3 linked regions of the Homo sapiens genome follow. The protein of the gene in region 1 interacts with the protein of each later gene in a biochemical or structural test. Each region holds a gene or a part of one and is shown in the gene's direction. Other genes may lie near its edges.

Region 1 (5,212 bases):
AGTTTATGCCTATTTTGACATTGAATTGAACATCTCTGTGCATTTTTTCTTTTATGAATTGTTTCTATAGGATACTAATCTCAAATGAATTACTAGTCAAAGGATATAAATGTTTCTACAGTTGCCAGATTTTTGCCTCCCCAAAGACTTGAGCGAGTTTACACTGTCAGCAGAGCATGAATGCGTTAGCTTTGCCATACTTTTGTGAACTTGGGAGTTATGATTAATGAAGCGTGATTACCTAATTGGGAATTATTTCTGGGAATAAGTTGTATTATTTAGCAGTTTTAAAATTATTTAGTTGGCCATATCATACTATAGTTATTTATCTACCAGTGATCTATGTGATGTGACAAATATTGTGTATTTCATATTTTCTGACATTTTACTGTCTTTGTTTCTTTTAAAGTTTACCAAAACTTTTGACAGACTGGTAACAATAATTCTTAGATTTCATGCAGTTTTATGTGGTTTGTACACTGAGTATTTTAATGCTAGTTTAAGAGTTAATTTCTGGGCTGGGCATGGTGGCTCATGCCTGTAATCCCACCATTTTGGGAGGCCTAGGCAGGTGGATCACCTGAGGTCAGGAGTTCGAGACCAGCCTGGCCAATGTGAGAAAACACCATCTCTACTAAAAATACAAAAATTAGCTGGGCATGATGGCGGGTGCCTGTAATCTCAGCTACTCGGGAGACTGAGGCAGGAGAATTGCTCGAACCTGGGAGGCAGAGGTTGCAGTGAGCCAAGATCACGCCAGTGCACTCTATCCTGGGCAACAGAGCGAGACGGTGTCTCAAAAAAAAAAAAAAAGAGTTACTTTCTGAACTATACATTTCATAGTTCTGTCTTATGAATGTGTCATTATGATTTATTAAGATTTATAATGACAAATTCATTTCCATGTAGGAAACACTTGGAATAAAGAAAGTGTATATGAGTATATGATAGCCAAATTGACTGAGTTTTGTCCCTGGCACATAGTTAAGTGTGTAATCAATATTTTAGGATAGTTATTAGAAGCCAGATTATCAGGGGTCTACCACTTACTGTGTTATCTTGAGTAAATTATATAACCTCTCTGCCTCAGTTTCCTTCTCTTTAAGGAGAATAATTTAACTCATAGTCTTGCTGTGAGCATTCATGTGATATATATACAATACTTAATACAGTGTCAAGAACTTAATGAGTACTCAGTTTGTGTTGTGGGAATTATTATTGAAGTTCATTCAGAAATAATCTAGCCTAGCCCTCCAGGCATGCTTGTGCTGTAGCTTGAAAGCAGTACAGCAACCATCTACTTGGTAGCTTTGGCAACAAAGTTATTTTTCCCTAAGAATTTATAATTTGTGGAGGAACATGCCACCTTAGAATTTTCGTAAATTCATTTGAGAGAATGTCTCATATTTTTTTGTTCCATATGTACCCCTTCTCAGACATTTTCTGTATCAAATTCCTTCAGTATAGCATATCCTTATTTTAAGATGATAAAATTATGATACTGTGATTTTCATAAAATCCAATTATCTTTGTATTTTTGAGACAAAGTCTTACTCTGTCATGCAGGTTGGAGTGCAGTGATGCGACTAAGTCTCACTGCGGCTTCCACCTCTGGGGCTCGAGAGATCTTCCCACCTAAGCCTCCCAAATAGCTGGGACCACACTCACATGCCACCACACTCAGCTAGTTTTTAAATTTTTGTAGAGATGGGGTCTTGCCGTTGCCCAGGCTGGTCTCAAACTCCCAGGCTCAAGCGATCCTCCCACCTCAGTATCACAAAGTGCTGGGATTACAGGCTGCTCCCCACCCCAACTATTCTTTTCTTCTACTCCACCAATCCTATTATAAACATTCTAGGGAAACCTTTCATTTCTCCTTCCCCATAGTGGGATTGAGATTATGATTAAAATACCACAGTTCTAAAGTTGTTTTGAAGTCTCTGCTAATTATACAATTATAACTACACTATCAATTTTTGGCCACAAAGTTGAGAATCAGTGAAATATTTTATCATTTGTAAGGTAGGTTTTAATGATTGTTGATATATGGATGTTGGGTCGAGGGATATTTTTTGTAGTAATACACTTTACTTACTTGAATTTTGACATACTTTGAAAACGGAAGAAAGAGGTGAGCTTATCATTGTTTTAATGGGCATAGTACATAATCCATAGTCTTACTTTATTTCATTTTTAGAGACAGGGTCTCTATCACCCAGGCTGGAGTGTGGTGGTGCAGTCGTAGTTCACTGCTGCCTCAAACACCTGGGCTTCAGCAATCCTCCCACCTCAGCCTCCCGAGTAGCTGGGACTACAGGCATGTGCTACTATACCCAGCTAATTTTTTAATTTTTTGTAGAGATGGAGTCTCACTATGTTACCCAGGTTGGTCTTGAATTCTTGGCCTCAAGTAATCCTCCCATCTCAGCTTCACAAAGCGCTGGGGTTACAGGCGTGAGCCACCACACCAAGCCGGTAGTGTATTTTATTTGTGCCCTCTTCATAATGAGAAATTTTTATTGATGTATTTTTCATAATGGTGATGACTATGAATTACTGTAATTCTTGGAGAACTGAATTTCTATTTCTATTTTCTTTTTGCTTTTACAAAAAATAAGTTTCTCAGGAGAAAAAAAGCAATGAAAGGTATTTTATCACCTACCTTGGGCAAAAATAATGCTATGGACCTTAGACCACATAATTCTGTTACCAAATCTAAGGTGATGTTATTAGCACAACTTGTGCTACTGTTGTTTATATTCATAATTATTACTCTGTAAATTTTTTGTATTTATGTATTTGTTATTCTATTATAATTTTAAACTATAAAACTACTTGCTTTCTTTACATTGCCTAGGAATAATCAAGACTCACTTAAAAAATATTTAATTTAAAAATTGGACTACTGATATTTTAATTGAATATTTTTGAGATATTGAACTGATTTCACTCTTCACATACTCATAATACAGTCTGGAGAAGTTTGTGATACTTTTTACGTGTACCATCAACTTTGAGAAATTTCATCAAAATTTTAGTATACTCTTGGGAATTGTGTGAAGGACCTCTCTCATGTCTGCTGTGAGTGGGGGAAAAAATACTGCTGCTTTCCTTGTTAACATTGGGCTTAATATTTTTCTCTCAGCTGATGAATTTGAGTTACCTAAATTGATGAACTAAACATTATATATCAAATAAACTTACAGATAGCATCAGAATCATGGGTTAAAGATTAATATAAAACTTTTTTTTTTTTTTGAGACGGAGTCTTGCTCTGTCGCGCAGGCTGGAGTACAGTGGTAGGTTCTCAGCTCACTGAACCCTCCACCTCCCAGGCTCAAGCAGTTCTCATGCCTCAGCCTTTTGAGCAGCTGGAACTATAGTCTCCGCCACCACGCCCCGCTGATTTTTTTGTATTTTTAGTAGAGACGGGGTTTCTCCATGATGACCAGGCTGGTCTTGAACTCCTGACCTCAAGCAGTCTGCCTACCTTGGCCTCCCAAAGTGCTGGGATTACAGGGTTGAGCTATCATGCCTGGCCAAAACTCTTATCTAAAAGTCAAACTGAGTATGTAGTTCAGTTTCTGGCCTTAAAAATAAAGAAGATAGTAAGATTAGGTATTTATTAGGCATTAGAAAAATGTACATTTAAAGTCAAAGTAAAATGCAGTAAAATTTATGAACTTAATAAATACTATTTTAGTGTCATGCACTATTCTGTGTATTTTACATATGTTACTTTTATATATTTTGATAGCCCTGAAATGTATTTTTTTTTTTACTGTAGAGGATCATAGTGTAATCATACAATTTAAAATTTTCCTGGCCAGGGGCAGTGGCTCACACCTACAATCCCAGCACTTTGGGAGGCTAATACAGGAGGATCATTGCCTTGATTAATGGAGGCTTTAAGTCACTCTTATTTTAAATTATCCATTTAAAATATCCACTTGGGTTCCTGTAGAGATGACCTCAGTTTCCAGTGTTCCCCCCAGACGTTTGCTTCTTGCCGTAGGATCAGGAAGCTTTAAGGCACTCTTATTTTAAATTATCCATTTAAAATATCCATTTTAAGTTATCCATTTTAAAATTATCCCTGGATAATTTAAAATAAGAGTTTGAGCTCAAGGAATTCAAGACCAGCCTGGGCAACATCGTGAGACCGGTCACTCCAAAAAAAATTTAGCTGGGTGTGGTGGCATGTGTACCTGTGGTTCCGCCTACTGAGGAGGTTGAGGTGGGAGGATCACTTGAGCCCAGGAGATCCAGGTTGCAGTGAGCCATGGTTGGGCCACTGTACTTACAGAGCAAGACCCTGTCTCAAAAAAAAAAAAAAAAAAAATCCTGAATTCAAAATACTTTAGTCTTGAGAGGCAAGTGAAGTCCTACTAGGTCGTGGCTGCAGGTTTTCAAACTCCTTGATTTAGGTTTGTTATTATGACCACTTTGCTATTCCCAAGGTGATCTCTAGGATCATTTCAGGAATGTATGAAGATAGTCATGAATGTACTGAGTGTTCGTATCCTGCTTCAGTTCACCTTGGCTGTGCCTACATGATGACAGATATTGGTGTTTTTTTTTTTTTGAGACAGAGTCTCACTCTGTCACCCAGCCTGGAGTGCAGTAGCGCGATCTCGGCTCACTGCAACCTCTGCCTCCCGGGTTCAAGCAGTTCTCTGCGTTAGCCTTCTGAGTAGCTGGGATTACAGGCACCTGCCACTACGCTCAGCTAATTTTTGTATTTTTAGTAGAGAAAGGGTTTCACCATCTTGGCCAGGCTGGTCTTAAACTCCTGATCTCGTGATCCACCCACCTTGGCCTCCCAAAGTGCTGGGATTACAGGCATGAGCCACTGTGCCCAGCCCATGATAACAGATGTTTGAAAGGGAATAAAGTCGTGTCTAGTGTCATTGTGCTAGCGTGCCCCTCCCCCTTCAGTGTTGGCCCCAGATCTTCCCTTTATTTTTTTATGTTTGTGGGAAAGGGGCCACATCAGCAGCAATCATCAACCAATCAATAGGATCTACTTAGTGGTGAACATATTGGCTGTTTAATTGGTAAGAGTCGCTGGCCTGACCACACCACAGCATGGCCACTTGGGTTCCTGTAGAGATGGCCTCAGTTTCCAATGTTCCTCCCAGACGTTTGCTTCTTGCCCAATCGAGAGGGGATCTCAAGACTCCTGATTGGTCATTGTGAGCTCTCACCCTGC
Region 2 (3,500 bases), about 130 Mb from region 1:
CTGCCATTGGATGGACCAAGGAGCTCTGAGGCCTCTTTAACCAAGAGTGAGCTTGTTAGCTGAAATAGCTAGCAGCCCTGGTGGGTTTTCACACACCCGTTGCCTGTTGATTTAACAGTTCTTTCATTCTCCAAGACCTTCTTGAGGGCTGGGCACTCCATGGCCATATCTGCCTTAATTTCCTTCCAGGCCAGGGTAAGAGGAGAGCGAGTGTATGATGTTATGGTTATCTGTTTTCCCTTGCCTCTGTCCCTGGTTCCAAGTGTACTGCAGAGAGAAGGGTACAGCTCCCTCTCTTAAAGCTCTTGCCTGGCCCTAGACCTGTCAACACCACTCCCTTGAGTTGAGTTTGACACTCCCTCCCCCATCATCATACCCAAAACCTGAGATCAGCTTGAGTTTGGGGCTGGGTGAGGGAGGATGTCTTCTATCCTGGCCTTTGGGTGGGTGAGGATAGAAAGATGAAGCTAGAGGAGAGACTGAGAAAAGAAGTGGGAAGGAGGCCAGTCCTAGGCCTGTTTCCCCTCTACAGCTCCAGATATCTCCTTCTGTCCGACTGTGCTTCAGACAATAAGTTCTGCAGACATAATTTGCACAATAATAATTCTGCAGCCATCCGAGAATGATGAGGCTGAGGAGGGACTTACACTTGCAAAACCTCCTGCTCTCGTGACCATTATCAGATATGCCTGGTAAGGGACATATGCATCTGCAGAAGAGGAATAACCATCACAGCCTGACAATGGTGCCTTGGTTTTTCTATATCCCTTTTTGTATTCATTATCCTAATTTTATGCCCATACCCACTCTATGTTGGTGCTTCATTACTGTCCCCCAGGTTAGTGAGTGGGAAGTGGGAGGTCAGAGTGTGGAAAAGTTCTGTCCCAAGGTTTGGAGATAAGTCAGTGGTAAGGGCAAGACTGTACCCATGCTGGCTGAGGGACACACTCTCAGAAACCCTGCCATCAAACCTTCCTTGGAGGTCACCACCATGACCCAGACCTTCTTACCCAGGAGTAAATAAAAGAGCTTCGGGGGTCATGCACCAGCCCTGAGGCCACAGAATAATTGGTCTCAGTCCCTCTTCGTGCTACTCCAATTAACTTTCTGTGTCTTTATACTCTACCTCATTCCAAATGAGATTTGAAGCATTCATAAGTAGCCTGATGTACTCTGGGGCTGCAGAACTTGTAGCTATTTTCCCAGACCAGTTTGGGGGTTTTCACGTGTTCCTTTCTGAGGCTGAGATCCCCTTTGGGAGCTTCAGGGAGACAGGGTCATATAGAAAAGAGACCCCAGGTAAGAGTTCAGAGACCAGGGTTTGTAGGCCTGGCTCCTGCCCTGCATGCTCTCTGGCTCTGAGCTCTGCCATTGGATGGATACAGTGGCAGGATACAGCGGCCCCAGGGCCTCTGTTCATCCCACTTGACACAGACGCCAGGATTTCCCAGTAGTGATGTTAGCACAGATGTCCCTCTGAGCGACATTATTACAGAACAGAAATAAGACATAGTTTCTTTTTCTTCCCTTGTAAAGACACATAGAAAAACCTTTTCTTCAAGCTTTGCTGTCCCCAAACAACTATGTTTTGCCTTCCAAAATTCATTTAATAACTGAGGCTTTTAGCTCTATTGTGAGATTAAAAGTTATTTAGTCAAGCTAAGTGATAGGTGGATAACTGCTGAACTGGCAAGGGGAGTGTCTGCAGACTCAGCAGCTTTCCCCGTCTTCACCCTCCCCAACACGTCTCAGAGGAGCCAAACTCCAGATCTAGGAAAGATCTCCGGATTCCTTGAGTAAGCCCTTATGGGACTCTGTCCTTCTGAAAAGAAGCTGAAGATCTCTTTCTGTCACTCATGCCTAATTCTCATTCCCAAGGGTTAATAGGCTATGTTCCCCTTCCATAATCCAAGTTATTCACAAGCATCATTTAAAATCGGATTTTGCTCAAGATGCCCATTTCCACACAGAAGAGTGCGTGTCTTGATGAATGAGTTGCTAACAGTAAAGCTTCTTCAAATAGAAAAGGTCAGAGGATCATCCAGCATTATCTCCCCCAGGTAATTCAGGTCATAAGCTCTAGAGCGGGGCACAAGACTGTCTCGTAGTTGAGAAATTGTACTGAGAAATTCCCGCCCCATTGGAGATAAGTTTGCAACATGTCACTTGGGAAAGCAATTCTTTTGTTAATAATAAGCCCATTGCTCATTTTGTTAGATAACCTTGTGTAAGATGGGTATTTAGAAGAAACCCGGCAACAAGGCTGAGTAAAGGTTTTTAGAAGGTATGAAGGTTTCTACCTTCAGTGATCAGCCACCGTTCTGATGGCTCAGTTGTTGAAATAATTATATCACCAGTGATTACTGTGATGACAGTTCTTGATTCGTTGTTCTCATCTTCAGAGGAAACTTGAAGGATACCTGTGACTCTGCAGAATTCCAGAGAGGGCCCAGATTTGTGTGCTTTACCTAGAACAGTGGAATAGGCTACTAGCCAAAGGGGGCTTTCAGAGAGACAGCCAGGTCCAGTGTAATCTGGAGTTGACAAGGGCAGGGAAGGGACTGTGTCCTCCTCCTCTTTGCATACCTAAGCTCTGCTGCGCATTAGGTGCCAATAAGAGTGTGGTGAACAGATGAAGGAACATACAAAGGGATGTCACACTGGATCTGTTGTGAAGAACCAGAAAGAGGACTGAGAGCTTACAGGGGAAAGTCTGAGTGTTGAGTCCTAATGTAACAGGCTTAAGAGGTATGCACTAATGCAATTTCTTGTTCCCCTTGGCCCTAGAAATAAAAGAACTTGAGAACAACATTCGGAAAGCCTTGTCATTTGACAACCGAGGAGAGGAGCACCGGGCAGCATCGTCTCCTGATGGCCAGCTGATGAGCCCCGGTGAGAATGGCGAAGTCCGGCAAGGCCAGGCCAAGCGCCTGGGCCTGGATGAGTTCAACTTCATCAAGGTGTTGGGCAAAGGCAGCTTTGGCAAGGTCTGTGGCACACACGGGTGGAACTGCTGGTTTTGTTCTACTCCTTAGCATTGTTTCGTCTGTTTGATCTAAGATTGAGAGAGGAACCTTTCAGCCTGATCTCGTTAGGTTTTCTTTCCTTTTTTGTAAGTGCAAATGACCTGAGGCCAAGTAGATAGGAGCGCTGGTTCTGCTATTAATTGGCTATATGAGACTTTCAAGTAGTGATTTAATCTCTTTGGAATTCAATTTTTCTCATTTGTTGAATGGGGACAGGAATCAAGTGAGATGGTAGATGAGAAAGCACTTTGGAAAGTTTTAAATGCTCAGTGTTCCAAATCAATAGTAGTGTCAATACATGTCTTCCCTCCTTCAGAGATCAGCTGAAATTCTGTTTTTAATTTGTTATGAAGACTTTGAGAATGAATCTCTGCCCTCAGCAAACCTAGGGTTTAAAGCAAATTTAGCATGCATTACTTTGGAAGGTAAATGTTATTTAACTGATCTTTCTGGCATGTAATAAATGTTCTGTTT
Region 3 (3,500 bases), on another chromosome or scaffold:
TGTTGGTAGTACTAACCATCTCGGGAGGTTGAGATTGTTGCTTCTTAAGACTAAGCTACGAAGAGTTTCAGAAAGGGGAATGTCATTTGGCTGTAAAAGTAAAACCGCACTTTGGATATTATTTTCTGATGTTTGATTGCTTTAAAAGACTACATTTTATTCATGTTTTTGGTTCTGCCTTATGTATACACACGGGATCTTTGGATGAGGAGCTTGCCTCTGTGACCCACTAAGGAAATGTGGAATCTATTAACATCTTTGTGCAATCAAGAATAATTTGTTGACTCAACCATTGAAAGGTGAATTGCCACTGGTTGAAGAAATAACATGGAAGCAGTAGCATAGGCTCTTTGCATTAAGAAAAAATTTTTAATTATTTAATATGTCAAGTACGGAGAATGATAGAATACATGTCCTCTACTCATTGCTATGAAACCTCTTGCACTTTCAGTCTCTCTTACCAGCCCTCTTTTTCTACATATCTGTTTCATACTGTTTCACAAGTATATAATTGTTTCATTTACTGTCTTGACCCCCACTAAAAGGAAGATCCATGAGGGCAGAAATTCCTGACTCCTTGATTCACTGCTATGCCCCCATTATCCAGTCATTGTTCTCAGTATTTATTACATATTGCTCAATATTGATTAATTGAATTTTCCCATGTTTGCTTCATTGAAATAGAACACTGTTGGGGTTCCCTCCGCAACTGCAAAGCCTCCCCCAAATCAAATTTTCTTCCTTCCCTAAATCCTTAGAGTAACCTAGAGTAACCAGTATTGTGGATTTGGTGTTTATCATATTTTGTGCGTGTTTTTATATCTTAGTACATGTTTATTTATCTCCATTAGCCAGTATGTAGAGTGTTTGGGAGCTTTTAAGAGTTATTTATATGAATAGTAATATAACCTTTCTGACTTACTGTAAGGGACAAGCCCGGAAGAATAACTGTAAGCCCAGAACTGTAAGGGACAAGCCCAGAAAAGTCCTGATATGACTAGTACACCGAACTCCCCTAAAGACCTCTCTAAGGAGGACTTTCCACTTGCCTTGAATAAATGCTGAAACAAGCAATGCATTTCATGTACCAGACAACAATTAAGCATTAACATCCAAGAATGAACCTATCTAGTTTTTTTCAAAGTTTAAGAACTAGATGCACTTAATATGTTTGTGCCAGAAAATTGGCCACATGTTTGCAGTATTCTCCAAGAAAAGGGGTCCTAATTGTTCAATCAAAAAATGTATTAACAAAGTATAAGTGGCCTGACACTTTGGTAACACTTTTTTCCTTCCTTTAGTTGAGACGGGAGAAGATTGACCTTGAAAATACATTGGAACAAGAACAAGAAGCACTAGTTAATCGCCTCTGGAAAAGGATGGATAAGCTTGAAGCTGAAAAGCGGTTTGTTTAGTCTTGCTGTTCAGTATGGGTGTGTGTGTGTGTGTGTGTGTGTTGCTGCTCTGGGTGTGACTGAGGAATAGCAGTAGGACACCTTAATTCTTTGGTGATGCACATCATTTTAATTGGCCAAAGGAAAAAAAATGTTGAAAGCCTTCTGAACTATTCCCATGTTGGGCACCTCTTTATTCTTTGCTATCATACTGTCCCAGTAGAATTTCTTTTCATTTGGTGTTACAAGGCTATGAGAGAATTAGTCATGCTGCTATTGTTCACCTTTAAAGTATTTTCAAGAATGGTTGCAATTTCAACTTTCCACCTTATTGAACTGGCTTCCTCAGTTGTTTTGTAAAGTACATAGGGTATACTGCGTACTATTATTTATACATCTCTGGAATTTACTTCTTTAGGAAGCCTGAGATTTTAATAATAAAATTGTTTTAAAACCTACTGTAAAGAAATACCTTTACATACTTAAGGCTAGGATTCTTTATATAAAATGTATGTACTTGGAAGTGGAATGTCACTCAACAGCAAACATTTCTTAAACCTCTTTGTGCAAGATAGTTAAGCCCTTATTTTCAAGCACTGAGTACTTTGGAGTGTGTGAGGCAGGGCTTGTAAGAATGGGAAGAAGATTCTGTATGTGGAATGTGTGTACGGGTGTAAAAAGTGAGTTTCTTAAAAATGGTCATTAATCTACTTCACCAAGATCTTTTGTTTGCTACCCAGAGCCCTTCCTCCTTAAGTATTTGGTTTGGATGCATATTTGTAATTGTTTTGAGTTCATGTCTACATTTGCAAAATACAGGCATACCACATAGCTTTAAGAAAAGTGAAAATTAGAGCTATATCTATAAGAAATACTTGTTATAATCATATCCACTATGCTTTACTGATAGGTATTATTGTAGCAGTACTAATAAGTTGAATTACGAAAAGTCATTTTATGTAATAAATGCAGGGACCATTATAATATTTAACACACTAGTTTTCTCAAGGGTAGACCTGGATGGAGGTAACTCAGTTTGCTCCTGGACAAACTCAAAGGTACAAAGCAAAAACAAAACAAAAACCCCAGCAGCTATGGAAAGGGATTTAGAGATCTGCTGCCAAAGGAAGACTTTGTAAAAGGCAGTTGGAGGTTTTACATGTATTAGTGCCAAATTATTGGGTTGAACAGTATGGAAGTTTGCATTTTGTAGGTCAGAGCTATTGAATATCAGTATTTTATATCCTTCAACATAAAAATAATTGGTAAAGAAGGTGGCACTACTAATTATTAACCTAACAATTTTGGTTTTGTTTTTAACTTTTTACCTTTGCTGTGGCCAAAAGCAAAGGGCCGCTAGTCCAGTTTGCCATGCCCTTGCAATTAGTTTTGCAGGAGGGAATTTTAGAAGTTGAGTCTCTGTGTTACTTTACCCTCCAAGGAGATTCATAGTAGCTTAGAAGCTTCAATCAAAAGCCGTAAGAAAATGGAATTTCCTCAGCATCTTCATGCACTAAACCCAAGAAGTTGAACATTGAGTCAGCAGGTATTTCTAAGTGCATACTGTATTCCAGGCATAATTATCAGATCCTGTTGTTAAATAAAGACTTTTCAGTATTGTTTAATTTAAAACATTTAATAGTCATTTAAAAGGAAAAAGGGAGATTAGAATCAGCTCTGCCCTTTGAAGTGAGACACCACGTAAGGGCAGAAGTTTGATGTAAAATGGGCAGAGGAATTAAGCAACCCTGTGAATTCTGGCAGTAAACAGGAGTTTGCTTTTAAAACAAACCTGCCAGCTAGTATGTTGTTTTGTCTTTTCAAGGAAAACTGTTAGTCATTGTTGGAATTTTTCTTTTCAATGAAGAATCCTGCAGGAAAAATTAGACCAGCCCGTCTCTGCTCCACCATCGCCTAGAGATATCTCCATGGAGATTGATTCTCCAGAAAATATGATGCGTCACATCAGGTTTTTAAAGAATGAAGTGGAACGGCTGAAGAAGCAACTGAGAGCTGCTCAGTTACAGCGTACGTAGCCTCTGGTTTCACTAGTTTCATGCCTGTAGAATTAATAACTTTACCAAATATAGGGTATTACCAACATTT

What was found. The genes of interacting proteins can lie anywhere in the genome.
Region 2: of the proteins of ATF2 (region 1) and PRKCE, one has a biochemical effect on the other in vitro, tested with the Homo sapiens proteins (one study listed by BioGRID).
Region 3: the proteins of ATF2 (region 1) and CCDC6 form a complex in vitro, tested with the Homo sapiens proteins (one study listed by BioGRID).

Annotation. Positions count from the first base shown.
Region 1 is NC_000002.12:175,157,365-175,162,576, reverse strand, and holds part of ATF2 (cyclic AMP-dependent transcription factor ATF-2), read left to right. Parts: intron 1-5,212. UniProt on the Homo sapiens protein: Transcriptional activator which regulates the transcription of various genes, including those involved in anti-apoptosis, cell growth, and DNA damage response.
Region 2 is NC_000002.12:46,004,675-46,008,174, forward strand, and holds part of PRKCE (protein kinase C epsilon type), read left to right. Parts: intron 1-2,787; coding exon 2,788-2,987; intron 2,988-3,500.
Region 3 is NC_000010.11:59,812,557-59,816,056, reverse strand, and holds part of CCDC6 (coiled-coil domain-containing protein 6), read left to right. Parts: intron 1-1,301; coding exon 1,302-1,405; intron 1,406-3,261; coding exon 3,262-3,422; intron 3,423-3,500.